Homo sapiens: one gene and its partners. The protein of the gene in region 1 interacts with the protein of each later gene in a pairwise test. Each region holds a gene or a part of one and is shown in the gene's direction. Other genes may lie near its edges. The genes, in order: RUSF1, RETREG3, CISD2, SLC30A8, CREB3L3, SCN3B and ZCCHC12.

Evidence for each region.
Region 2: the proteins of RUSF1 (region 1) and RETREG3 interact in binary tests that used the Homo sapiens proteins (3 or more experiments, as listed by UniProt).
Region 3: the proteins of RUSF1 (region 1) and CISD2 interact in binary tests that used the Homo sapiens proteins (3 or more experiments, as listed by UniProt).
Region 4: the proteins of RUSF1 (region 1) and SLC30A8 interact in binary tests that used the Homo sapiens proteins (3 or more experiments, as listed by UniProt).
Region 5: the proteins of RUSF1 (region 1) and CREB3L3 interact in binary tests that used the Homo sapiens proteins (3 or more experiments, as listed by UniProt).
Region 6: the proteins of RUSF1 (region 1) and SCN3B interact in binary tests that used the Homo sapiens proteins (3 or more experiments, as listed by UniProt).
Region 7: the proteins of RUSF1 (region 1) and ZCCHC12 interact in binary tests that used the Homo sapiens proteins (3 or more experiments, as listed by UniProt).

The regions. Positions count from the first base shown.
Region 1 is NC_000016.10:31,494,892-31,498,391, reverse strand, and holds part of RUSF1 (RUS family member 1), read left to right. Parts: intron 1-1,441; coding exon 1,442-1,543; intron 1,544-3,500.
Region 2 is NC_000017.11:42,588,875-42,592,374, reverse strand, and holds part of RETREG3 (reticulophagy regulator 3), read left to right. Parts: intron 1-212; coding exon 213-319; intron 320-3,500. UniProt on the Homo sapiens protein: Endoplasmic reticulum (ER)-anchored autophagy regulator which exists in an inactive state under basal conditions but is activated following cellular stress.
Region 3 is NC_000004.12:102,882,492-102,885,991, forward strand, and holds part of CISD2 (CDGSH iron-sulfur domain-containing protein 2), read left to right. Parts: intron 1-2,557; exon of another isoform or gene 2,558-2,724; coding exon 2,725-2,939; intron 2,940-3,500. UniProt on the Homo sapiens protein: Regulator of autophagy that contributes to antagonize BECN1-mediated cellular autophagy at the endoplasmic reticulum.
Region 4 is NC_000008.11:117,172,995-117,177,214, forward strand, and holds the end of SLC30A8 (proton-coupled zinc antiporter SLC30A8), read left to right. Parts: 3' UTR 1-3,720; downstream 3,721-4,220. UniProt on the Homo sapiens protein: Proton-coupled zinc ion antiporter mediating the entry of zinc into the lumen of pancreatic beta cell secretory granules, thereby regulating insulin secretion.
Region 5 is NC_000019.10:4,156,631-4,160,130, forward strand, and holds part of CREB3L3 (cyclic AMP-responsive element-binding protein 3-like protein 3), read left to right. Parts: intron 1-364; coding exon 365-665; intron 666-3,033; coding exon 3,034-3,152; intron 3,153-3,500. UniProt on the Homo sapiens protein: Transcription factor that may act during endoplasmic reticulum stress by activating unfolded protein response target genes. Activated in response to cAMP stimulation. In vitro, binds to the cAMP response element (CRE) and box-B element.
Region 6 is NC_000011.10:123,641,125-123,644,624, reverse strand, and holds part of SCN3B (sodium channel regulatory subunit beta-3 precursor), read left to right. Parts: intron 1-1,953; coding exon 1,954-2,179; intron 2,180-3,150; exon of another isoform or gene 3,151-3,500. UniProt on the Homo sapiens protein: Regulatory subunit of multiple voltage-gated sodium (Nav) channels directly mediating the depolarization of excitable membranes.
Region 7 is NC_000023.11:118,822,423-118,826,623, forward strand, and holds the start of ZCCHC12 (zinc finger CCHC domain-containing protein 12), read left to right. Parts: upstream 1-1,401; 5' UTR 1,402-1,583; intron 1,584-1,916; 5' UTR 1,917-1,968; intron 1,969-2,166; 5' UTR 2,167-2,291; intron 2,292-2,708; 5' UTR 2,709-2,822; coding exon 2,823-4,031; 3' UTR 4,032-4,201. UniProt on the Homo sapiens protein: Transcriptional coactivator in the bone morphogenetic protein (BMP)-signaling pathway. It positively modulates BMP signaling by interacting with SMAD1 and associating with CBP in the transcription complex.

The DNA.
Region 1 (3,500 bases):
AAGCCTAAATGCTACGAGCACCCCTAAACAGGGTAGGAAACCCCAGAGAAAAGCATGGCTGTAGCTATGGACCGAGGGTTGTGCCATCTGGCTTTTGCTTCAAACTCTGCCTTTGAGACTTCAGTCTCTTCATCTGTCCAACAAGGGAATGGAACAGGGCCATGAGCTTCCCTCTTAAGACCCCTCTCTAGAGTTCCCCTCTCCACAACCTCCATCTCCAGCTGCACCAAGAGAAGCCAGCCTGGCTGTCATCTATGCTGCCGCCACCACCACTGCCACCACCTCCTCCTCTTCCCCCTTCCCCTTATCTGTCACCTTCGGCTGAACCTTCAGTTCTGTTATTTTTCCCTCCTCAAAATCTCCAGTCCATTCTCTCCTCCATCTTCCTGTCACCACCTCTCACTGCTGAGAGAGCACCGTTGCTTCCCAGGTAGCCTCCGTGCCGCTCCTCTCTCAGAGCAGCCCAGTGATCCTTTCAAAGAGGAAAGCAATCAGGTCACTCTGCTGCTCCATTGCTCTTAGGGAAAGACCTTCACCAGGCTTGCCAGGCTCCGTGTGGTCAGGTCCCTGCCAGCCACTTCGCCCTCACTTTGTCCCTCGTTCCTCTGGCCTTTGAACAGACTGTTTCCTCTGCCTGCGTATTAACTTGTTTATTTGTTTATTATCTGTTGATCTGTATGCTCCATGAGGGCAGGGCCTGGGTCTGACTTGTATCACAGCACCTAAGTCTATGTCTGGCATCTAAAAGAGCCCTCAGCCAGGGGCGGTGGCTCACGCCTGTAATCCCAGCACTTTGGGAGGTTGGCGTGGGAAGATCTCTTGAGCCCAGGAGTTCCAGGCCCGCCTGGGCAACACAGGGAGACTCTGTCTGTATTCAAAAACTAAGGATAAATAAAAATAGTAATAAGTAAAAGAGCTTTGATGAACTCGGGATGATTGTGAGTGACCAGTGACCCTCCTTGATTAGCTTTATCCTGCGATCTCAGAGGGAGAGATCTGGGTACCCTGGGAGGTCAGGGCCATCAGTGTAGGTTTCGACAGCTTTAACTGGGGCAGGAGGAGAGTAGAGGAATTACAGGAGGCAGATGTAAGCATGAAGCTGGAAACCAGCCTGAGCCTCCCGCCAGTAATGGGGAGGGTATAGCCCAAGCAGGAGCTGGAGGGCTGGGAGTTCTGGGCTGAGAATGATCTTTGGGCCTCCACCTTGGGGAATGAAATTGAGCTTCTGTGAGGCCAGTCCCCAAGGTGATAGTGGCAGGTGGGACTCCAGTTTCCTAGAACAGGACAGGGAAGTTGAGCCTAGGGGGCATCAAGGTGAGAACTAGATGCCAAGGACAGCATTCAGAGTTTGGCCGGGGCCAGGTTTTCTCCAGCTGGTCTGAGTGCCTGTGTTACCAGGACACGTGTCTCTGCCAACCTTCTCTCTTCCCCTCCCACCCAGTGCATCGTGAGTGTTGCTGGTGGGGCCACTCGGGCTGCCCTGACCGTGCACCAGGCTCGGAGGAACAACATGGCTGACGTGTCAGCCAAGGACAGCAGCCAGGTGAGTGCCAGAGCTGGAGGGAGGGCGTGGAGTGGGGAGGGGAAGGGGAGAGAAGCCACTTGAGTGCCCTGGAGGGCCCAGGAACACACAGGAAGAAGTATGGGTGCTCCCTGCTGACTCAAGACACCCAGGCAGGAGTAGGGGTTTGGGCTCTGGTGGCGGCAAGTCCGAGCTGATCTCAGGCCCTGCCCGCCACCTGTGTGGCTGAGAGCAAGCCCTCAGCCTTGCCCTCTTCAGACCCCACCGTGCAAGCTGGATGTTCTGATCACATGAGGCCCCACATGTCAAGGCAATTGGCAAGTCAGAGTTACCCAGCATGTGGGGTTGCTGGGTCACTGGCTGGGGCCTCCACTCAGCAGTTTAGCAGGCCTGCTGGCCCAGCCCCCTTGCCCACCCTAGGGAGCCTGGAGTTGGGGTAGGGACACCCCTAAGGCTGAACTCCGCATGGATTAGACCTCTACAAACCCCGTGCTGAGTGCTTACGTGTACTGCATCACTTAACTCTCACGCCTGTCATCCTAGCACTTTGGGAGGCTGAGGTGGGAGGATCACTTGAGGCCAGGAGTTTGAAACCAGCCTGGGCAACCCGGCGAGACCCCATCTCTACATAATATATAAAAGAAACTTCAGCTAGGTGTGGTGGTGCACACCTGTAGTCCCAGCCTCGAGCTCAGGAGGTGGAGGCTGTGGTGAGCTAAGATCACCCCACTGCACTCCAGCCCAGGTGACAGAGCAAGACCCTGTCTCAAAAACAAACAAACTCTCACACCAACCCTTTGAGGTAGGTACTACTTTATCCCTAGTTTACAGATGAGGAAATTAAGGCCCAGGGAAGTCCCAGAAGTGTGAGATGGTTTTCTTTGACACTGAAGCAATTTAGAAACTGCTGTTCTGTGCATTCCTACTTTCTGGCCTTCTCTTCCATTGTTTGGCTCAATAATCTTAACCCAAGCTAATATTTATTAAGCACTAACCATGTGCCAAGTATTTTGGTTCTGGGAACTCTTTAAATTCTCACAGTGGGCATGTGCAGTAAATGCTCATGGTTGCCTTAGTACAGATGAAGAAATAAAGCATGGAGAGGTCCCATCTCCCTGGGGGCCCCTGGGGAAGTCCCTTCTCTCAGGATGCTCGGGCTTATTCCACCCATTGTCTCTTCTGAACCTAAGTCCACAGGCTGTTAAGGAGCAAGCAGGAAGCACAGCACAGGTCCCTCACCGCAGGACTCCCAGCTCCATGCCTGGTGTCCCTCTCCTGTTCTCTCGCTGGTCCCCAGACCTCCCCCTAACCCCAAGCCATTTTTCCCAAGACCCCAGGGCTTCCTCGGTCCACAGAGCCAGGGACATATCCGGGACTAACCTGGGAATGTGTCAGTCCCGCAGCAGACTCCAGCTTTCTGCCAGTGCAGCTTTGCTGTCACTGGATGTGGCCACTGGAAATGACTCTTCCCACCTGGGAGAGAGGAGCTCCTGAACTCCCCAGGTCCCTGATCCCCAGTTTCCTGCCACACCCACAGCGTTTATTCCCACAGCATATGCCCTTCCCAGGAGGGCTGGTTGAGAAGAGCTCTCCAGTCTCGGGTCCTCTCTATGCCAGGACCAGCTCTCCCTGGGAGCCCAGTAGTCAGGGGCACCAATCCAGACTCCTCCCTCATGATGAGTTGGGGGCAGGTAGCCTGGGGTCCCTTCCCCTAGAGTGATCTCAATCCAGCCATCAGAGTGTTCTCCTAACATTGATACACAAGGGAAGAGGTGTGGGTCTTGTTCCTTTTCTTCCCGGGTGGTTCCTTGACCCCTTTGCAAATCTATCTGCCAGTTACTGCATACCAAAGGAGCTTGGTGGGAGGGGAGCAGTCAACTTTTTAAAATCAGTAAATAAAAGTTATTCCAGCTCATGCCTGTTATCCCAGCACTTTGGGAAGCTGAGGTGGGGATTGCTTGAGCCCAGGAGTTCAAGA
Region 2 (3,500 bases), on another chromosome or scaffold:
GCAGCAAATTATTTTCTCTGCCCCATAGGTAGAGTAGTTAAGGTCCAGAAGGTTTAAATGATTTACCCTAGGTGTATAACTAGTTAAGTGTCAGAACAAAAAAAGCTAGACCTCAAGTCTGTTTACCACAGAGCCCATCGTACACACGTGGCCTTTTCTGAAATTAGGATAACTAGGTAAATGATCTTTCTTCTGTTTTTCTTCCTCTGTAGGTTTTTTGCCCTGACATCTCTTCGTCTTGTGTTTTTACTTGCATTTGGCTTGATGATCATTGTGTGTATTGATCAATGGAAGAACAAAATCTGGCCTGAAATAAAAGGTGAGTTTGGTAGCATTTAGAACAATCTGAACTGAAGATGGCCTTTCCTATAATTTGTACCTTTAGTATTAGGGGTTTATGAGGAGGTGTATGGAGCTGGGGACTGTCTTTTGAAGTCTGAATCATTTGCTTTAGGAGGCACTTGAAGGGCTTGTGCCCCAATTATGGTTCCTTAGAGCTGGGTTCTGCCCTTCCCATTGTTACTAAGCACAGGAAATCTGTACTCACCACCTGAGTTATTTTTGCCAACATAATGGCCTGAGGAATAAGTAGTCCTCAAATGAAAAATAATAAATTATCGTTATTGGACACTGCATCTTTATTGAGGCAGTACCTCTCAGGAATTCCTTTTACATTGCTCATTTGCAAAACACTAGGCTAGGCAATTGTGACTTATAGAAAGTACCATGATGGCCGGGCGCAGTGGCTAACGCCTATTAGTAACCCCTGCACTTTGGGAGTCCGAGGCGGGTGGATCACCTGAGGTCAGGAGTTCGAGCCCAGCCTGGCCAACATGATGAAACCCCGTCTAATAAAAATACAAAAAATTAGCTGGGCATGGTGATGCATACCTGTAATCTCAGCCACTAAGGAGGCTGAGGCAGGAGAATCACTTGAACCTGGGAGGCGGAGGTTGCAGTGAGCCGAGATCGTGCCACTGCACTCCAGCCTCGGTGACAAGAGCAAAACTCAGTCTCAAAAAAAAAAAAAAAGAAAGTACCATGACATGTGGTGTCTTTTTAAAAAGCTAATACATACATAAACAAATGAAAAATTAAGTGACAATTATAGACCAGCACCACAGATGTCACAGTGCAGTATGTGATTAGTATACTTAGCATGTATTTTTTCCCTAGCCTGAGAGTGGAACAAAGCAAAAGATTTGAACAGATTGAGAAAAAAGTCTGTTTCTAGAGAGTCCAGTGGCTTGATTAGTCTGAGGAACCAGAAGTTGCAAAGCATTTCCTGACATCAGAGAATTGATCATATGGCCAGGATGAAGGTTCATTAAAGGGAGTGCTAGGAAATAAAACTGAAAGTATGTTGGGATTAGGTTTTTTGTTGGTTTCTTTTCTTTTCTTTTCTTTTGAGACGGAGTCTCACTCTGTTGGCCAGGCTGGACTGCAGTGGCATGATCTTGGCTCACTGCAACCTCCGCCTCCCAGGTTCAAGTGATCCTCCTGCTTCAGCCCTGCTAGTAGCTGGGATTACAGGCACGCACCACCATGCCTGGCTAATTTTTGTATTTTTGTTAGAGACGGGGTTTTACCATGTTGGCCAGGCTGGTCTCGAACTTCTGACCTCAGGTGATCCACCCGCCTAGGCCTCCCAAAGTGCTGGGATTACAGGCGTGAGGCACCGCACCTGGCGCATTCTTTTTTTTCAGACAGAGTCTTGGTCTGTCACCCAGGCTGGAGTGCAGTGGCGCAATCATGGCTCACTGTGGCCTCAACCTTCCGGGCTCCAGCAATTCTCCCACCTTAGCCACCTGAGCAGCTGGGACTATAGGCACTTGCCACCATGTCCAGCTAATTTTTGTATTTTTTCTATAGATGGGGTTTCTCCATGTTGGTCAGGCTGGTCTTGAACTCCCAACCTCAGATGATCTGCCCGCCTCAGCCTTCCAAAGTACTGGGATTACAGACGTGAGTCACCGCGCCCAGCCCTATTCTTATTTTTTAACAAACTAGGTCTCACTGTGTTGTCCAGGTTTTGGAGTACAGTGGCATGATCATAGCTCACTGCAACCTCAAATCCCTGGGCTTAAGTGATCCTCCCACCTCAGTCTCCCAATTAGCTGGGACTACAGGTGCATACCACCACACCCAGCTAAGTAAAAAAAATTTTTTTTGAGACAGAATCTCACTTTGTTGCTCAGGCTGGAGTGCAGTGGCGCGATCTTGGCTCGCTGCAACCTCCACCTCCCAGGTTCAGATGATTCTCCTGCCTCAGTCTCCTGAGTAGCTGGGACGACAGGCGTGCACCACTACGCCCAGCTAATTTTTTTGGTATTTTTAGTAGAAATGGGGTTTCGCCATGTTGGCCAGGCTGGTCTTGAACTCCTGACCTCAAGTGATCCGCGTGCCTTGGCCTTCCAAAGTGCTGGGATTACCTGCGTGGGCCACCACGCCCAGCCGATAATAAAGATTAATTTAGTAGCATTTTTAGGACCACATGGAAGGAGGAAAAGTGGAACAGGATGACCTGTTAGGAGACTGTGGCAGTGTCTTTGTGAGAAGTAGTCAGAGAGGCCTCAGTGAATACAAATGATGGATGGCCTGGAGAGCTGTGAATAAGGAAGATCAAGACATAAATAGTTGGGGCCAGGTGCAGTGGATCATGCCTGTGATCTCAGCACTTTGGGAGGCCAAGGCAGGAGAATTGCTTGAGCCAAGGAATTTGAGACCGGCCTGGACAACGTGGCGAAACCTTGTCTCTACAAAAAATAAAAAAATTACCCAGGCATGGTGGTGTGCACCTGTGGTCCCCAGCTACTTGGGAGGCTGAAGTGGGAAGATCCCTTGAGCCCTGGAGGTTGAGGCTGCAGTGAGCCGTGATCGCACCACTGTACTCCAGCCAAGACAACAGGGCGACACCTGTCTCAGAAAATAATAATTGTTATATATGTATAATAAAAGACATAAGTGGATGGGGGTTAAAGCTAAGAGAGTGGCAGAATGGCATTACACTTAGCAGGCAAAGGCAGACAGGAAAGTTGGTTTGAAGGGGTGAGAGAGGAAAACTGATGTAGATTTTAGGCAGGTTAATTTTGAAGTGTTGGCAAGATATTCAAACCAGAGTATACAGGTTTTAAATACATGCCCATCATATTTTATAGAGACTTCAAGGAATCGTGTAGTTCATCTGCCTATCTAATGGCTGGTGAATCTCAAAAGACTTATACATCATTCAGGTAGATAATGGGTCTCCCCATTTTTTTTTTTTTTTGGTTAGAGACAGGGTCTCACTGTGTTTCCCAGGATGGACTTGAACTCCTGGGCTCAAGTGATCCTCCTGCCTCAGCCCCCCAAGGAGGCAGAACTATAAGTGAGCATCACTACACCTAGCTCTGGGTCTCTTTTTAAAGAGAACAGGCAGGCTGGGTGTGGTGGCTCACACCTGTAATTCCAGCACTTTAGGGAGGCTATGGTGGGTGGATCACCTGAAGTCAGGAGTTCAA
Region 3 (3,500 bases), on another chromosome or scaffold:
GAAGTTGAAGCTGGAAAGGTAGCCTTGCCATTCTTTGGAGATGGCACCTTATAGAGCCAATGATCTATAGTAGCATTGTCCAGTAAAACTTTGTGGTAATGGAAATGTTCTCTGTACTGTTCAATATGGTAGTCAGTAGTCACATGTAGCTAGCTATTGAGCCTCTGAAAGGTTACCAGTGTGTCTTAGAAACAGCATTTTACATTTTACTTAATTTTAATTTATTTACATGTGAATAGCCACATGTGTTTGTTTTGTTTTGTTTTGTTTTTGAGACAGAGTCTTGCTCTTGTCACCCAGGCTGGAGTGCAATGGCATGATCTCGGCTCACTGCAACCCCTGCCTCCTGAATTCAAGCGATTCTCCTGCCTCAGCCTCCCAGGTAGCTGGAATTACAGGCGCCTGCCACCACGCCTGGATAATTTTTTGTATTTTTATTAGAGACGGGGTTTCGCCATGTTGGCCAGGCTGGTCTTGAACTCCTAACCTCGTGATCTGCCCTCCTCAGCCTCCCAAAGTGTTGGGATTATAGGCATGAGCCACCACGCCCACATGTGTATATTAACCGTGTTTTCAATTTTCTGTATTTTATTATGCTTTAATATCTTAGGAGCCTTGTTGGCTGTGGAGACAATTTAATTCCTAGAGATACTAAATAACTTGCCTGTGAGCATGCCTTTCATATGCAAACCAACCAATCCAAAGCCCATGCCCCCAACCACCTCCTTTATCTAACCCTTACACATGAAGTCAGTATTTCTCCAGTCAATATTTCTCCTGCCCTAAGTCACCCCAGGGACAGGTAGGAGACGACTAGGGACCACTACTTTTGCCCAGAACCCACTGAAATTATTCAAGCTAGCCAGTCCTGAACAGTTTCCTGCCTTGCCTTTTCCATGGAAACCACAGTAAAGGCCTGTGCCCATGCTTTTTCCCTTTCCTCTTTCTTCCTCCTGATCAACCCTAGTACCTCTCATGTGGCCCTGCATTGCATAGTGTATCCTCTCCTCTTGGGAACTATAAGTAATAAACTGTTATTTCAAGACAGTTTCTACAAGTCTGTTGGGTACAAATCTAAACAGTATGGCTAGTGGTGCCCATATTGAATAGCACAGATCTTATACCTAGGCCTCCTTCTCCCCGCAAAAACAGTTCTGTGTTATCTCCAGAGCTTTAATTCACTCAAAGAACCTATTTGGAGTGTCTCCACTTTGGTTATGAGAATGTAACAGCCAGCATGGCAGACAAAGTTCATACTTTTACAGAGTTTTATTCTGGTAACTACAAGATTATATTCCTGAAGATTTTTGCCCATATAGCATTGTCAAGTTATTTGGCAAAATATTTTTTTCAAAGGAGTTGCTAGTACTTCCTCACCAATCTCTATAATCTCTGAATAAAAGCTACCATTTATTGTGTCTTTTTTGCCAGCCACTCTTATAGGTGCTATCTATGAAAATGGTAGATAAATAGGTTTTTTCATTTAGATTTCTTTGGCATGATGTTATATCAAAAATAATTCCATTTTGGAAGAGTTCATATTGTCTTTCTTTCAATAGTTAAATAGTACTATTATCTCCTGAGAGTAGTTTTACCAAGATAGGCACAGATTTTAATTTTAGATCTATTGGGTTTGATTCATGATAACTGACAACAGGCTTTGGATTTAGGGTGTCCTGGACTAAACCTGCTTAGGCTACAGTTTTCTCACATGTAAAATGGGGATAATAATGATACCTACCACATATAGTTGTTTAAGCTAACATAGTGTTAAATGAGCTAGTGCCCTTATACTCTTAGCATAACCTGTTCATTTATCTTTAATGTTTATTAGCATGAGTTAGCATATTATTTTCTGTTTTTCTCTTTTCTCAACTAAGCTATTTCCACATAGTGCCTAGCAAGGTATCAGATTCGGCATTCAGTGAAGGAAGTTAACTGGTAATTCTATAAGAACAGAAAAGAGCCCAGCAGAGGCAGGGTGCTAGCAGACATTTGATAAATGTATGTTGAAATGTTTATCTTGGTTTCCTGGTATTTTTGTGTCCACATGCATAGGGACTGTTTCATTTGTATCACTTATATTCCCTGTCCCCTTAAGACAGGCTAGGTACTCCAAAAGGCTTTAAATGAAGTTTATGGAATTAGATATATCTTAAAATGAGAACATTCAACATAGAAGGTTTCAATTTGTTCTTTAAAATAGTAGCTTTTACACAAAATTTCAGTGTTCTTTAGCAACATTTACCAAAAATGTACCTTAAAGCATCAGAGGACATGTTCTCTCTGATATTATGAATCAGTGGTAAAAATTCTGCAGATATTCTGTTGTATGATTTTGACATAGTATTAAGGAGATAAAATGTTTTCTTAACTTATAAAATATACATTGAATTTTGTTTATAGTTATAGTGATCATAACTCCTAAAATAAAAATAGACAAACACAAATAGACTTGATGTAGACAATGAGATAGGATATTTGAAATGGAACCTATTTCTGAAAAGTTAGGTTTCTAGTTTCACTGGTCTCAAATTATAAATAAAGTAAGGTGGTCTTTGGTAGAGCTGGCTTTATTGTGTTATTTATTCACAGTTTTATGGATCCATTAAAAAGGAATTAATGTAAAAAGTAACAAAGAATAAGCTCAAGGATGAAACTAGACATGCTATTTTGAATTCTTTTCCAAGAGCACTGCAGATTCTGACACATCTACATGTTTAGTTTCAGAATGGCTTCGGTTATTGCCTTTCCTTGGTGTACTCGCACTTCTTGGCTACCTTGCAGTTCGTCCATTCCTCCCGAAGAAGAAACAACAGAAGGATAGCTTGATTAATCTTAAAATACAAAAGGAAAATCCGAAAGTAGTGAATGAAATAAACATTGAAGATTTGTGTCTTACTAAAGCAGCTTATTGTAGGTGTTGGCGTTCTAAAACGGTAAGATGTCTGTTTACGTGTACACTAAAATTTTGCAGTGCTAGGATTGTTTCGCCTCTTAAATCCCCAGTTTTGAAGTTCTTTAAGATGAGAGAATTTTCTGTAATATTTGGTATTGAAAGACCATATTCCTAAATTGAAGTTTTCATGTCATGATAGATACTACCTACATTAGAAAAGTTGGAGCAGCAAAGAAGAATAAAAATCTAATGCCTTCGCAATGTTTGGCATTTATGTAGAGTAACATGTATTTTAAAATACACATTCTTTGAGAGAGGACCTAAGGTTTAATGGAAAAAAGCTTTGGTGTCATAGTAAATAGTGGTCAAATATACTTGTCACAGTATGAGTTTGGTTGGACAAGTTACTTAATTTTTAATCTCTAATCTTCAGGGTTTGTTTTAACCTGATACATCCACATTACATATCTTTGAGAAGTGAGATGATATATGTAAACTGCTTTAATAATATGAGGTAGTAAATGATAGCCTCAATTATAGATGATTTTTAATGTGGGAAGGAGTTTGGAGTGATAAGTACTATAAGTAGTTGACAAAATCT
Region 4 (4,220 bases), on another chromosome or scaffold:
GCATCTTGAGAACACATAGGTAAATTTGAACTCAGGAAAGTCTTACTAGAAATCAGTGGAAGGGACAAATAGTCACAAAATTTTACCAAAACATTAGAAACAAAAAATAAGGAGAGCCAAGTCAGGAATAAAAGTGACTCTGTATGCTAACGCCACATTAGAACTTGGTTCTCTCACCAAGCTGTAATGTGATTTTTTTTTCTACTCTGAATTGGAAATATGTATGAATATACAGAGAAGTGCTTACAACTAATTTTTATTTACTTGTCACATTTTGGCAATAAATCCCTCTTATTTCTAAATTCTAACTTGTTTATTTCAAAACTTTATATAATCACTGTTCAAAAGGAAATATTTTCACCTACCAGAGTGCTTAAACACTGGCACCAGCCAAAGAATGTGGTTGTAGAGACCCAGAAGTCTTCAAGAACAGCCGACAAAAACATTCGAGTTGACCCCACCAAGTTGTTGCCACAGATAATTTAGATATTTACCTGCAAGAAGGAATAAAGCAGATGCAACCAATTCATTCAGTCCACGAGCATGATGTGAGCACTGCTTTGTGCTAGACATTGGGCTTAGCATTGAAACTATAAAGAGGAATCAGACGCAGCAAGTGCTTCTGTGTTCTGGTAGCAACTCAACACTATCTGTGGAGAGTAAACTGAAGATGTGCAGGCCAACATTCTGGAAATCCTATGTCAATGGGTTTGGTTTGGAACCTGGACTTCTGCATTTTTAAAAGTTACCCAGAGATGCTTCTAAAGATGAGCCATAGTCTAGAAGATTGTCAACCACAGGAGTTCATTGAGTGGGACAGCTAGACACATACATTGGCAGCTACAATAGTATCATGAATTGCAATGATGTAGTGGGGTATAAAAGGAAAGCGATGGATATTGCCGGATGGGCATGGCCAGTGATGTTTCACGTCATTGAGGTGACAGCTCTGCTGGACTTTGAATTACATATGGAGGCTCTCCAGGAAGACGAAGAAGAGAAGGACATTCTAGGCAAAAAGAAGACTAGGCACAAGGCACACTTATGTTTGTCTGTTAGCTTTTAGTTGAAAAAGCAAAATACATGATGCAAAGAAACCTCTCCACGCTGTGATTTTTAAAACTACATACTTTTTGCAACTTTATGGTTATGAGTATTGTAGAGAACAGGAGATAGGTCTTAGATGATTTTTATGTTGTTGTCAGACTCTAGCAAGGTACTAGAAACCTAGCAGGCATTAATAATTGTTGAGGCAATGACTCTGAGGCTATATCTGGGCCTTGTCATTATTTATCATTTATATTTGTATTTTTTTCTGAAATTTGAGGGCCAAGAAAACATTGACTTTGACTGAGGAGGTCACATCTGTGCCATCTCTGCAAATCAATCAGCACCACTGAAATAACTACTTAGCATTCTGCTGAGCTTTCCCTGCTCAGTAGAGACAAATATACTCATCCCCCACCTCAGTGAGCTTGTTTAGGCAACCAGGATTAGAGCTGCTCAGGTTCCCAACGTCTCCTGCCACATCGGGTTCTCAAAATGGAAAGAATGGTTTATGCCAAATCACTTTTCCTGTCTGAAGGACCACTGAATGGTTTTGTTTTTCCATATTTTGCATAGGACGCCCTAAAGACTAGGTGACTTGGCAAACACACAAGTGTTAGTATAATTCTTTGCTTCTGCTTCTTTTTGAAAATCATGTTTAGATTTGATTTTAAGTCAGAAATTCACTGAATGTCAGGTAATCATTATGGAGGGAGATTTGTGTGTCAACCAAAGTAATTGTCCCATGGCCCCAGGGTATTTCTGTTGTTTCCCTGAAATTCTGCTTTTTTAGTCAGCTAGATTGAAAACTCTGAACAGTAGATGTTTATATGGCAAAATGCAAGACAATCTACAAGGGAGATTTTAAGGATTTTGAGATGAAAAAACAGATGCTACTCAGGGGCTTTATGAACCATCCATCAATTCTGAAGTTCTGACTCTCCCATTACCCTTTCCCTGGTGTGGTCAGAACTCCAGGTCACTGGAAGTTAGTGGAATCATGTAGTTGAATTCTTTACTTCAAGACATTGTATTCTCTCCAGCTATCAAAACATTAATGATCTTTTATGTCTTTTTTTTGTTATTGTTATACTTTAAGTTCTGGGGTACATGTGCGGAACATGTAGGTTTGTTACATAGGTATACATGTGCCATGGTGGTTTGCTGCACTCATCAACCTGTCATCTACATTCTTTTATGTCTGTCTTTCAAAGCAACACTCTGTTCTTCTGAGTAGTGAAATCAGGTCAACTTTACCACCAGCCTCCATTTTTAATATGCTTCACCATCATCCAGCACCTACTTAAGATTTATCTAGGGCTCTGTGGTGATGTTAGGACCCATAAAAGAAATTTATGCCTTCCATATGTTTGGTTACAGATGGGAAATGGGAATGTTGAAGGACATGAAAGAAAGGATGTTTACACATTAAGCATCAGTTCTGAAGCTAGATTGTCTGAGTTTGAATCTTAGCTCTTCCCTTTATTAGCTCTGTGACCTCGAGCTAGTTACTTAAATGCTCTGATCCTCTATTTCCTGATCAGTGAAACCTCCCTATTCAAATGTGTGAGAGTTTAATAAATTAGGACACTTAAAAATGTTGGAGCAGTGCATAGCATGTAGTGTTCAGTACATGTTAAATGTTGTTTTTTATTATGTACAAACATGAGTGGGCACAGAATTTTAAATCATCTCAACTTTTGAGAAATTTTGAGTTATCAACACCGTTCCCACAAGACAGTGGCAAAATTATTGGTGAGAATTAAACAGCTGTTTCTCAGAGGAAGCAATGGAGGCTTGCTGGGATAAAGGCATTTACTGAGAGGCTGTTACCTAGTGAGAGTGATGAATTAATTAAAATAGTCGAATCCCTTTCTGACTGTCTCTGAAAGCTTCCGCTTTTATCTTTGAAGAGCAGAATTGTCACTCCAAGGACATTTATTAATAAAAAGAACAACTGTCCAGTGCAATGAAGGCAAAGTCATAGGTCTCCCAAGTCTTACCCCATTCCTGTGAAATATCAAGTTCTTGGCTTTTCTCTGTCATGTAGCCTCAACTTTCTCTGACCGGGTGCATTTCTTTCTCTGGTTTCTAAATTGCCAGTGGCAAATTTGGATCACTTACTTAATATCTGTTAAATTTTGTGACCCAACAAAGTCTTTTAGCACTGTGGTGTCAAAAAGAAAAACACCTCCCAGGCATATACATTTTATAGATTCCTGGAGAATGTTGCTCTCCAGCTCCATCCCCACCCAATGAAATATGATCCAGAGAGTCTTGCAAAGAGACAAGCCTCATTTTCCACAATTAGCTCTAAAGTGCCTCCAGGAAATGATTTTCTCAGCTCATCTCTCTGTATTCCCTGTTTTGGATCACAGGGCAATCTGTTTAAATGACTAATTACAGAAATCATTAAAGGCACCAAGCAAATGTCATCTCTGAATACACACATCCCAAGCTTTACAAATCCTGCCTGGCTTGACAGTGATGAGGCCACTTAACAGTCCAGCGCAGGCGGATGTTAAAAAAAATAAAAAGGTGACCATCTGCGGTTTAGTTTTTTAACTTTCTGATTTCACACTTAACGTCTGTCATTCTGTTACTGGGCACCTGTTTAAATTCTATTTTAAAATGTTAATGTGTGTTGTTTAAAATAAAATCAAGAAAGAGAGAGTTTGGGTTAAGTCATCATCTTTTTATCACCAAAATCATGGCAGGACATGTTTTTCATGACACCAGTGAGGACTGTAATGAGAATACACTCTTTCACTCTCAGTCATTTATTGGAAGAGATATAACTCATTTGGGGAACATACTTGTCTAAGAGAGATGGAAGATAATGTGTTAGAATCAGGGGTGCTTTTGAAATCATTCTGGTCATGGGCATAAAACCCCAGTGGAGGAAGAAGATGGTGGTCAGAGGTGGTAGGAGCCCTTGACGGTTGTAAAAAAGGAACTTGTGCTTCTTCAACCATAAAGCCAGGAAGTGATGAGAGATGTCAAGCTGAATTGCACCCCTTTCAGAAGTGTCAATCAAGTCCTGGAGACAATGTATCATTATAATTGCCCTATATTTCCTTTCTTCAAAGGGGTACCCATTTGTTAAAAACACGATTATCCTATTTACAGCCATTAAAACCCTATGGTTGTTATACACAGTCCAATAGTACTAT
Region 5 (3,500 bases), on another chromosome or scaffold:
AGCTGGGACTACAGATGCCCGCCACCACGCCCAGCTACTTTTTGTATTTTTAGAAGAAATGGGGTTTCATCATGTTGGCCAGGCGGATCTCGAACTCCTGACCTCAAGTGATTCGCCCTCCTCGGCCTCCCAAAGTGCTGGGATTACAGGCAGGAGCCACTGCACCTGGCACTGGCTGGGATTTTTATGCTATGTTACTGCGTTTGAGCCTCAGCAGCCCCGGGAGGAAGAAGCAGTAACTCATCTTGGAGAAGGGAAGGACACCTAAGGCCCAAAGAGGGTCACTGGTTTCCCTGGGGCCACACACTAATCTAAAAAGAGTGAGCACTTCCTAATTCCTACTACCCCTCCCTGTCCACCCCAGCAGGTCCTGCCAAACCCCGACTCTGACGACTTCCTCAGCTCCATCCTGGGCTCTGGAGACTCACTGCCCAGCTCCCCACTCTGGTCCCCCGAAGGCAGTGATAGTGGCATCTCCGAAGACCTCCCCTCCGACCCCCAGGACACCCCTCCACGCAGCGGACCAGCCACCTCCCCCGCCGGCTGCCATCCTGCCCAGCCTGGCAAGGGGCCCTGCCTCTCCTATCATCCTGGCAACTCTTGCTCCACCACAACCCCAGGGCCAGTGATCCAAGTACCTGAAGCCTCTGTGACCATAGACCTGGGTGAGTCCTGCTGTGTCTCTGCCCACCGCCCTCACCTTGTTCCAGGGCCCTTCCTGTAAGTGAGGAAATGGAGGCCCAGAGAGGGCTGGCATCTTGTCCAAGGTCACACAGCAATTTGGAGCTGGGCCCAGACTCAAACTCAGGACACGTGTCTCCCTTGGCTAGGTGTTTCCATGCTTTCACGTGGATGCTATTGGGAGCCCATTTTCCAGATCGTGAAACAGTCCTGTCAGGTTGAGCAATGAGCTAAAACCACAGAGCTAGGATGCAACCCCGGCAGGTGGCTCAGGCACCAGGCATGGTGCTGACAAGCACAGCCCAAAGTCAGGGTCTTGCCTTCTACGTGTCTGTACCCCGTGCCTGGTTCCTAGTAGATTTTTTTTTATTTTTTATTTATTTTTATTTTTTGAGACAGAGTTTCACTCTGTCACCCAGGCTGGAGTAAAGTGGCGCGATCTCGGCTCACTGCAACCTCTGCCTTCCAGGTTCAAGCAATTCACCTGCCTCAGCCTCCTGAGTAGCTGGGATCACAAGCATATGCCACCATGCCCAGCTAATATTTATTTTTTAGTAGAGACGAGGTTTCACCATGTTGGCCAGGCTGGTCTTGAACTCCTGAGCTCAGGTGATCTGCCCACCTCAGCCTCCCAAAGTGCTGAGATTACAGGTGTGAGCCGCTCCACCCAGCCTGTAGATGCTCAATAAAAGTGCATGAGGTTACCAGGTCCTAGGTTCCAGGGTGCTCCTCCTAGACGTGGGGAACAGCAGATCAGTAATGATTTACTCTATTGATTAAGCATTCCCGGCGGGCCAGGCAGAGCCCTGGCTGGAGATACTTGGCCTCTGGGTGGCCTTTGTCCCTTGACCCTTGCTATGAGCTCTTCTTGGTCCCATTGGAGAGTTGACAAAACTGAGGCTCAGGCCCGGAGCGGTGACTCATGCCTGTAATCCCAGCACTTTGGGAGGCTGAGGCAGGCGGATCACTTGAGGTTAGGACTTCAAGACCAGCCTGGCCAACATGGTGAAACCCCATCTCTACTAAAAATACAAAATTAGCCGGGCATGGTGGGGGCCACCTGTAGTCCCAGCTACTCAGGAGCCTGAGGCAGGAGAATCACCTGAACCCGGGAGGCGGAGGTTGCAGTGAGCTGAGATCATGCCACTGCACTCCATCCTGGCTGACAGAGCCAGACTCTGTCTCGAAAAAAAGCCAAAAACAAAAAATGCTGGGCACAGTGGTTCACGCCTGTAATCCCAGCACTTTGGGAGGCCGAAGCGAGCGGATCACGAGGTCAAGAGATCGAGACCATCCTGGCCAACATGGTGAAACCTCTGTCTCTACTAAAAATACAAAAATTAGCTGGGTGTGGTGGCAGGCGCCTGTAGTCTCAGCTACTCGGGAGGCTAAGGCAGGAGAATCTCTTGAACCTGGGAGGTGGAGGTTGCGGTGAGCCAAGATTGCCACACTGCTCTCCAGCCTGGCGACAGAGCGAGACTCCGTCTCAAAAAAAAAAAAAAAAAAAAATCTGAGGCTCAGAGAGGTGAAGTCACTTACTCAAGGTCACACAGCCCTGCCCAACCAGGATTAGAACCAAGGGTTACCTGACCCAAAGTTTGTGTGCTGGGACAGCATGCCTACTGCATGCCGGCTACCAGGAGGGGACAACCAGAGGTGAATCAGACCTCGTCCCTGCCCCTTGGGTGAGATAACGCCTGGCTGGCTGCAAATCTAGCCTGTAATTCTGTGTGATAACAGCCACTCCCTTTTGAATCAGCCGGTGTCTCCTGACAATGTCCTGTGTCTTCCTCAGCCTTGTGGGACGGACAGAACCAAGCCCTGTTGAATTTGGGTCCCCATCTTTTTTTTTTTTTTGAGATGGAGTCTCGCTGTGTCACCCAGGCTGGAGGGCAGTGCCACATTCTCAGCTCACTGTAACGTCCACCACCCGGGTTCAAGTGATTCTCCTGCCTCAGCCTCCCGAGCAGCTGGGATTACAGGTGCACGCCACCAGGCCCGGCTAATTTTTGTATTTTTAATAGAGATGGGATTTCACCATGTTGGCCAGGCTGGTCTTGAACTCCTAACCTCAGATGATCCGCCTGCCTTGGCCTCCCAAAGTGCTGGGAATACAGGCGTGAGCCACCATGACTGGCTGGGTTCCCATCTTATAGCAGAGGGGAGACCGAGTCACTAGTGAGGGCTGCCCCCTTCAACTCAGGCCTTGGGGACTCCAAACTCTGGCAGAAGTCATATGAATGTTGGGATTAATCATGGGAGACTTGGTGGAGGAGGCGGTTAGAGGCTGGAAGCTCAGGACTCCCCCCGTCTGACACTCTCCCTGTCTCCGTCCCCACCTGCCCTGGTCAGAAATGTGGAGCCCAGGAGGAAGGATCTGTGCTGAGAAGCCGGCTGATCCGGTGGACCTGTCCCCACGATGCAATCTCACCGTGAAAGACCTCCTCCTTTCGGGCAGCAGTGGGGACCTGGTGAGCACCCCCACACCCTCCCATGGGGCGTTGGAGCTGGGAGGGCTGCTCGGGTTCGAGGAGCCTAAATATCCCCGTTTCAGAGACTGGAAAACTGAGTCACAGAAAGGCGTGGAATTTGCCCACAGTTAGAGACCATTCCAGTCCTGGGCTCACTGTCGCCTGGGCTGGGGTGTCTTCCTCTGTAGTACTTAGTAGTAACAATAGCAACAACAACTAAAAGCTAAAACTGGCTGAGTGTGGTGGTTCACACCTGTAATCCCAGCACTTTGGGAGGCCAAGGCAGGCAGATCGCTTGAGCTCAGGAGTTTGAGACCAGCCTGGGCAACATGGTGAAACCCCATCTAT
Region 6 (3,500 bases), on another chromosome or scaffold:
AATTTTGGTATTTTTAGTAGAGACAGAGTTTTGCCATGTTGGCCAGGCTGGTCTCAAACTCCTGACCTCAGGTGATCCACCCACCTCGGCCTCCCAAAGTGCTGGGATTCCAGGTGTGAGCCACCGTGCCTGGTCGGCTGTCATATATTTTGAATACCACCTTGGAGATGACCATTATTTACTCCTTCACTGACTGTGGAGCCAGGCCACCTGGGTTTGATTCTTGACTTCACACTTATTATCACCTCTGTGTCCTTGGACATGTTGGTCATCCTTTCTGTGCCTCGGTTTCCTCATTTTTAAAGTGGGGATATAAAGCATAGCCAAATTATAGGGCTGTTACCAGGACTCATGAGCTATAATTTTTAATGCATTAAAAATAGTTTCTGGAATATAGTAAGCACTGGTAAATGTTTGCTAGAGAAAAGATAGACACAGAAATGAGGAAACTGAGGCTCAAAGAAGTTAAGTTAATAACTAAGACAGCTTTGACTTGAGCCAGGTGGTCTAACAGCAGATACAAGGCCCTTTTTACGGCACTGCTTTGCCTTCCTGGGGGCAAGTTTCTCCTCCACAAAGATTTGTAACAGAGACAATGGAAGGGCGAAACTGGGTTTAGCTTGCTCTTCTTTCTCACTATCCTAAAGCCGAACCCATTTCTAACTCTAGCTTCTATGTGCCATTCTGATGCAGATTTGCAACCGTCTGGTACTAAGACTGGGACCAGCGGAGACTTCCCAGAGCCTGGCTCAGGTGTGACAGTGACACGTCAATGAAGCTGCAACTGAGGCTAGCCCCCAGCTGCAGGAGGCTGGATGTCTTGGCCAGATGCAAAGGCCCCCAGGGCCTTCAGGCCTGGTCATGTACCAGTGATAGCTGCCCACATTGCTTCCAGGCCTGCCCAAAGTGAGGAAAAGGTGGATCAGAAGAAGAAGAAAATGAAAAATAAAACGGCAACAGCAAAACATCCATGGAAATCCACAGCAAGGCTGTCTCATAGAAATGTTTGTGATGGTGGAAACCTTCTCTATCTGTGCTGTGCGATACAGTGGCCACCAGCCACATGTGGCTATGAATAATTGAAATGTGGCCAGTGCCACTGAGGAACTGAATTTTACATTGTATTTAACTTCTAAGAAATTGAATTTAAGTAGCTACATGTGGCTAGTGGAGACTAGAATAGCCAGCACAGCTGTAGAGAGAGAATGGCACATAGAAGCTAGAGTCAGAAATGAGTTTGGCTGTTATGTCAGAGGGTGGAAGTGTTGAGGAAAGAAATTTAAAAGATGATATTTTAGTTAAAATTCAGTCCAAAGCAAAAGATGTGACGTGTGCCTCTCTGGTGATGGCTCTCTGCTCATCTGCCATGCTTCAGCATCCTGGGCCTCCTTCCTGTGGCCTGGCCCAGACTGTCCTACAGCCCCTGATGAGTACCAGCACAGAGAGTCCAGTTTTAAAGCCAGGGCTTTCATATGTCTTCATTACTAATGAATCTGCCTGTCTTGCTGTCTCTACCTTGTTCTCTTGCCAGCGGCTCTGGGACACATCTTACTCTCTTGTTCTCTCTATCTTTTTACAATCCTGTCTTTCTCTCAATGTCCGTCTCCTGGGCTCCCATACTCTTCTCCCGCCTGCCTTTGTTCTCCCTCTTTCCACCCCTTTTTTTCTGCCAAGCTTCTTCCTACACGCCCGTGGCTGCCTCTGTCCTCACCACGTCCACATGCCCTGATGCCTGCTGCCTCTGCCTGTCCTTCCCTGTCTTTGCTCCCTTCCCTACCCTCCTCTGTGCCTCTTCATCCCACCCCCACATTCTGGGTCTCCCGGTGGCATTGTCCCCTCTCTTCCCTGTCCATGCACAATTCTGCTCCTTTTCTCTGCCCTGTCCCTAACTCGGCTTCCCCCCACTGCCATCTCCTTTCCTGGCCCTACCCTCTTCTGCTCCTCTATCTGCAGATTTACGAGTATCGGAATGGCCACCAGGAGGTGGAGAGCCCCTTTCAGGGGCGCCTGCAGTGGAATGGCAGCAAGGACCTGCAGGACGTGTCCATCACTGTGCTCAACGTCACTCTGAACGACTCTGGCCTCTACACCTGCAATGTGTCCCGGGAGTTTGAGTTTGAGGCGCATCGGCCCTTTGTGAAGACGACGCGGCTGATCCCCCTAAGAGTCACCGAGGAGGGTGAGGCTGAGGCACAGGGTCTCTAGGGCGTCCTGCTCTCTGTGGACAGGGAAGGGTAGGACAGCAGTTTTCCACGAGTGAGGCCCTTAAAGAGTGCAAAAACCCATGTATTTGGAATGGTGACATCTAAAAATGTCACCATTGACCCATCTTCTTCTGGTGGCCAGCTTCCTGTAAATTCCCTAAGCAGCTTGTCTTTCTGTGCCTTTCCTCAAAGCAGAAAGGCTTGGAGATGATAGAATGAGCTCTTCCTGGTCCCTTAGAGAAAGAGGCTAGCCTCCATGAGGCCTAAAGCTACTGATTCAGCTAGGCCTTCTTCTTTGGCCTATGTTGAATCCCTGACTCAGTGGGCTCAGAGAAATCTCATGAGGTTACCCGGAAGTCATCTCTCCTTCTACCTGTAAGCAATACATGCCTCTAAGCCAGGGGTTCTCAAACTTTAGCAAACCTCAAAATCTCCTGCAGGGCTTTTTGGAAGCCAGCCTTTCTGCTTTTGTCGGTGGAGCCTGAGAGTTTGCACTGCGTGACACACTGCCTGGCGGGCAGTGCTGCTGCTGGGACCACACCTTGAGAACCTCTCTCTAAACCAAAGTTTGACAATCTTTTTTTCTTTTGTCTTTCTTCACAGTAATCACACGTGCAACCTCTTCCCCATCTGTGGCATCTCTTATTACATAAATTCATTCCCTGCTGGGAGAAGGGGACAGGTTGATAGCTCTCTAGTCTTGTTTAAAATCTTTGGACTCCTACAGCTAGTTCCGTGTTCGTGAGTGGGAAGGCCTTTCAGCAGCCTAACTCAGGTGTTTCTGTTGCAACCGGAGTCCTGCATCCTGAGGGGGGAGTTCCAGCCTTTCTCAGTCTATCTCCAGCATTATCACTGCTAGTGAGCAGGCCAAAGTGTGGGGCATGAAGGAAAAGATCAAGTTAAAGACAGGGCTCTTCCTAGAAAAAAGGATCCAGGAATCCCAACCTCCAGGCCACAGGTTTATTCATTTTTTATCATGTCGTTGTGATAAAAATAATGAAGCGGAGATTCAGTCCTCAGAGTGAATGAACAAAGGAGAAAGAGACATAACGGATCAGACGATATGACTAAAATGGAAGGTAGGTCAATTCTGAAAGTGCAGAGGGACTCTCAGGGCTCCTGAATCCAGACCTGATGAGTCACTTCCCTGCTCGGAGCCCCGCTCCTCTGGTGTGAAATGAAGGGGTTGGCGGGGGGCTCTCTGAGGTACTCCCCTGTTCTGAAGTTCCTTTATCCCCCGTTTGTTACACGCCTTTCCTCTGGGGGGTGGGGCCCTGGCGCCCTCTCCTGGTCACC
Region 7 (4,201 bases), on another chromosome or scaffold:
TCCTCTGCTTATGGCCACATCACTAATCTCTGGTCATTGCCTTCTCTTCTTGGTGCACCAACTCTCCCTCTTTTATAAGGGCACTTGTGGTTTAGATTTCAGCCTGCCTGGAAAATTAAGTCAAAAAGCCTTAACTTAATCACACCTGCAAAGACCATTTTACTTTATAAGGTAACATTTACAGGTTTCAGGGATTAGGACTTGATACATTTGGGTGGCCATTATTTAGCTTCATACAGAGTCCGAAATCTTTGCATACAATTTCAGGAAGATCATGGATTCCAGGTAGGCACATCTGCTCTGGAGTTGCATTTCACCACAGATACCTGTGGACAGATATTGGAGACAGGCTCATTTACTTATTCACAAACCTTGCTACAACTCAGAACCAACCGCAGCGCCGGTTAAAAATACTAAATACAAAACCACATCACAACCGCTAGTCCTAGTAAATCTGAATCCACCAGAGTTGGGGCCCAGAGCCTACATTTCTTTTCTTTTCCTTTTTTTTTTTTTTTTTTTTTTTTTTTTTTTTTTTTTGAGAGGGAGTCTTGTTCCCTTGCCAGGCTGAAGTGCAGCGGTGCGATCTTGGTTCACTGCAACCTCCGCCTCCCAGGTTGGAGAGATTCTCTAGCCTCAGCCTCCCAAGTAGCTGGGATTACAGGCACGCGCCATCATGCCCAGCTGATTTTTTTTTTTTTTTTTGTCTTTTTAGTAGAGACGGGGTTTCAACATGTTGGCCAGGATGGTCTCGATCTCTTGACCTCGTGAGCCGCCCGCCTCGGCCTCCCAAAGTGCTGGGATTTCAGGCGTGAGCCACCATTCCCGGCCAGAAGACTGCATTTCTAACAAGCTCCCCCAAATGACTCTGATGTCTTGCCCCCATACTTGAATGGGTATTGGTTGAGAGCCTTGTTCTCCAGCTCTCCTCTCTGTTAAATGGACATACTGCTACTTCTTTCACAGTAAAAGAGGAGATGTGTGTGAAAGCCTGTTTCCGCAATGCACGTGCTAATGCTCTTCCCGCCCCTTCCCCTCTTCCCCGTCTTTTCCCTATACCAAGGTGAAGAACTTTTATTATTCACTTGATTTTGGACCCACTTCGTGTTTAATGCACCTGGCCTAAGATGCAGAGTTGAGCCCAGGGAGAAGGGACGGGTTGGGGGAGGAAGAAAGAGTCGCAAATTCCCAGGCAGATTGGCTCCATCGGTCTAATCAAGCTGCACTTGACGCTCCGCGGGCCTGCTGCGCCCCCGCCCCCTCAGGCGAAAACTCGCCTCTGCCCAAGGCTGTGCGGGGCGTCCGCCCCCGCACTTCGCTGATTGGCCGCACTAGCCCGCTCGTCACGCTCTTTTGTCTCAGCTGGCAGAGGATAAAAGCCGCCGCGGCTGCCTTAGGAACGGCGCTGCCTCGTCTCTGCTACCCCTGGTTGGGCGGCCCTGCGAAGCAGCTCCTTCGGGCAGCCCCGGGTCGCTTAGCGGCCAAGGAGGCTTCAGTTCTTTGCCGCCTGCAAGGCGGAGACCAGAAGGCGGAATCCACAGCTGGCGACGCGGGAGCATCTGCTGTCCACCAGCGGAGCACAGGTAAAGAATGGGGGTGTGATTGCCCGGCGGGGAGAGGGGTGGGGGAAGACCCACCAGTACTGGGCGGCTCCCAGCTTGGAGAATCGGTGACTGTGAGGCAGGGGTAGGAGTACTCTCGTGGCCCGGCTGCGCTGAGGGAGGAGGTGGGGTTCACCTGGATACTGCGGGCTAGGTAGGATTTGCCTGGATTTGGGGGTGGGAGGAGAGGCGAGGAGTAGCGGGGGGAGGAATCTCGAGCTGTTTGCTTCGAACATCCTTTGCATCTCCTCATCTCTTTCTGGGAGGAATATGTGGGTGGGTGTGTCCAACTCCTATTCCCTTTCTCCGTGGCAGGCCATCAAAGCCGCATCTGAACTTGAATTCTGTGCAGCTGATTGCAGAGCTGGTAGGCCGACGGCTTCCCGGGGGAAATGTAATGCTGGAGGGTGGGGGGCTGGTCTCTGGCTTATAGTCAGGAGGGGGCAGAGAGAATTTTTCGCCTGGCAACAGCGGAGGTGGTGGGTAGCAGGATGACGGGTGAAGCTGCTTCTAACCCTTCCCTTCTCTGGCCTTCTCCGCTGTGGCGCAATCTTGAAACCTCAAGGACCCGGATCTGCGACCCCCTGTGGACAGAGGTTGACCGTACCCCGGAGAGGAGCTTTCTCACGGAGGGCACTGGTTGCAGAGGCTGGAAGTGAAATAAAGACGCGCTCTTGTTTCAGAGTTCGTGTAAGAATCTGAGAAATAACAAGGGGGACGGGCGTGGGGGGCACTTTGAGAAGGGGGTGTGGTTGAGACCAGAGACCATGAGGTTAATGAGATCTTATTTTATTTCCACAAATCTGCGATCATTGTACTCTATTTGGAGAGCCCAATATCAGCTCCAGACACTGCTACACCTAGAATTTGAAGCAACAGTTACCGTCCCTCTTGGAGGACTGGTGGGAGGGATGGATGTGGCTGCAAAAAGCACCTTGCTAGCACGCAGGCATCGGGTAGCTCTGGGAGGTTGTAAGTGTCAATCTCCTACAGGATTATTTTTAGGGTAGTGGGCAAATATAAAATGTACTGCAGGATATTCAGGTAGGAAGAGAATGCAGCTGCAGCCCGCTCCCTTATTAACCAGCCCCCCTTTCTTTTTTACAGCCCCTGCTGAGATAGGAAGGCAGAGCCACCTCCTCTCCTCTCCCACCTGCAGATTAAGCTTTTCTAAAAAGCCTAGGCATCTTCTTATATTCAGATACCCTATCGTCGTCAGTCATGGCTAGCATCATTGCACGTGTCGGTAACAGCCGGCGGCTGAATGCACCCTTGCCGCCTTGGGCCCATTCCATGCTGAGGTCCCTGGGGAGAAGTCTCGGTCCTATAATGGCCAGCATGGCAGACAGAAACATGAAGTTGTTCTCGGGGAGGGTGGTGCCAGCCCAAGGGGAAGAAACCTTTGAAAACTGGCTGACCCAAGTCAATGGCGTCCTGCCAGATTGGAATATGTCTGAGGAGGAAAAGCTCAAGCGCTTGATGAAAACCCTTAGGGGCCCTGCCCGCGAGGTCATGCGTGTGCTTCAGGCGACCAACCCTAACCTAAGTGTGGCAGATTTCTTGCGAGCCATGAAATTGGTGTTTGGGGAGTCTGAAAGCAGTGTGACTGCCCATGGTAAATTTTTTAACACCCTACAAGCTCAAGGGGAGAAAGCCTCCCTTTATGTGATCCGTTTAGAGGTGCAGCTCCAGAACGCTATTCAGGCAGGCATTATAGCTGAGAAAGATGCAAACCGGACTCGCTTGCAGCAGCTCCTTTTAGGCGGTGAGCTGAGTAGGGACCTCCGACTCAGACTTAAGGATTTTCTCAGGATGTATGCAAATGAGCAGGAGCGGCTTCCCAACTTTCTGGAGTTAATCAGAATGGTAAGGGAGGAAGAGGATTGGGATGATGCTTTTATTAAACGGAAGCGTCCAAAAAGGTCTGAGTCAATGGTGGAGAGGGCAGTCAGCCCTGTGGCATTTCAGGGCTCCCCACCGATAGTGATCGGCAGTGCTGACTGCAATGTGATAGAGATAGATGATACCCTCGACGACTCCGATGAGGATGTGATCCTGGTGGAGTCTCAGGACCCTCCACTTCCATCCTGGGGTGCCCCTCCCCTCAGAGACAGGGCCAGACCTCAGGATGAAGTGCTGGTCATTGATTCCCCCCACAATTCCAGGGCTCAGTTTCCTTCCACCAGTGGTGGTTCTGGCTATAAGAATAACGGTCCTGGGGAGATGCGTAGAGCCAGGAAGCGAAAACACACAATCCGCTGTTCGTATTGTGGTGAGGAAGGCCACTCAAAAGAAACCTGTGACAACGAGAGTGACAAGGCCCAGGTTTTTGAGAATTTGATCATCACTCTCCAGGAGCTGACCCATACTGAGATGGAGAGGTCAAGAGTGGCCCCTGGCGAATACAATGACTTCTCTGAGCCACTGTAAGGGACCACCCCCAGGTTTCAGTGAACCCTTACCTATATTCAGCATCCAGTAGTGGGAAAACTGGGGTGGGGGTGGGGGTGGGACTTCTAACTGCATGAATTAATCCACAAAGCGGCTATCTTTTGGGGTGGAGTAGAAAGGGTCTTGGATACCAGCACATTGGAGGGAGA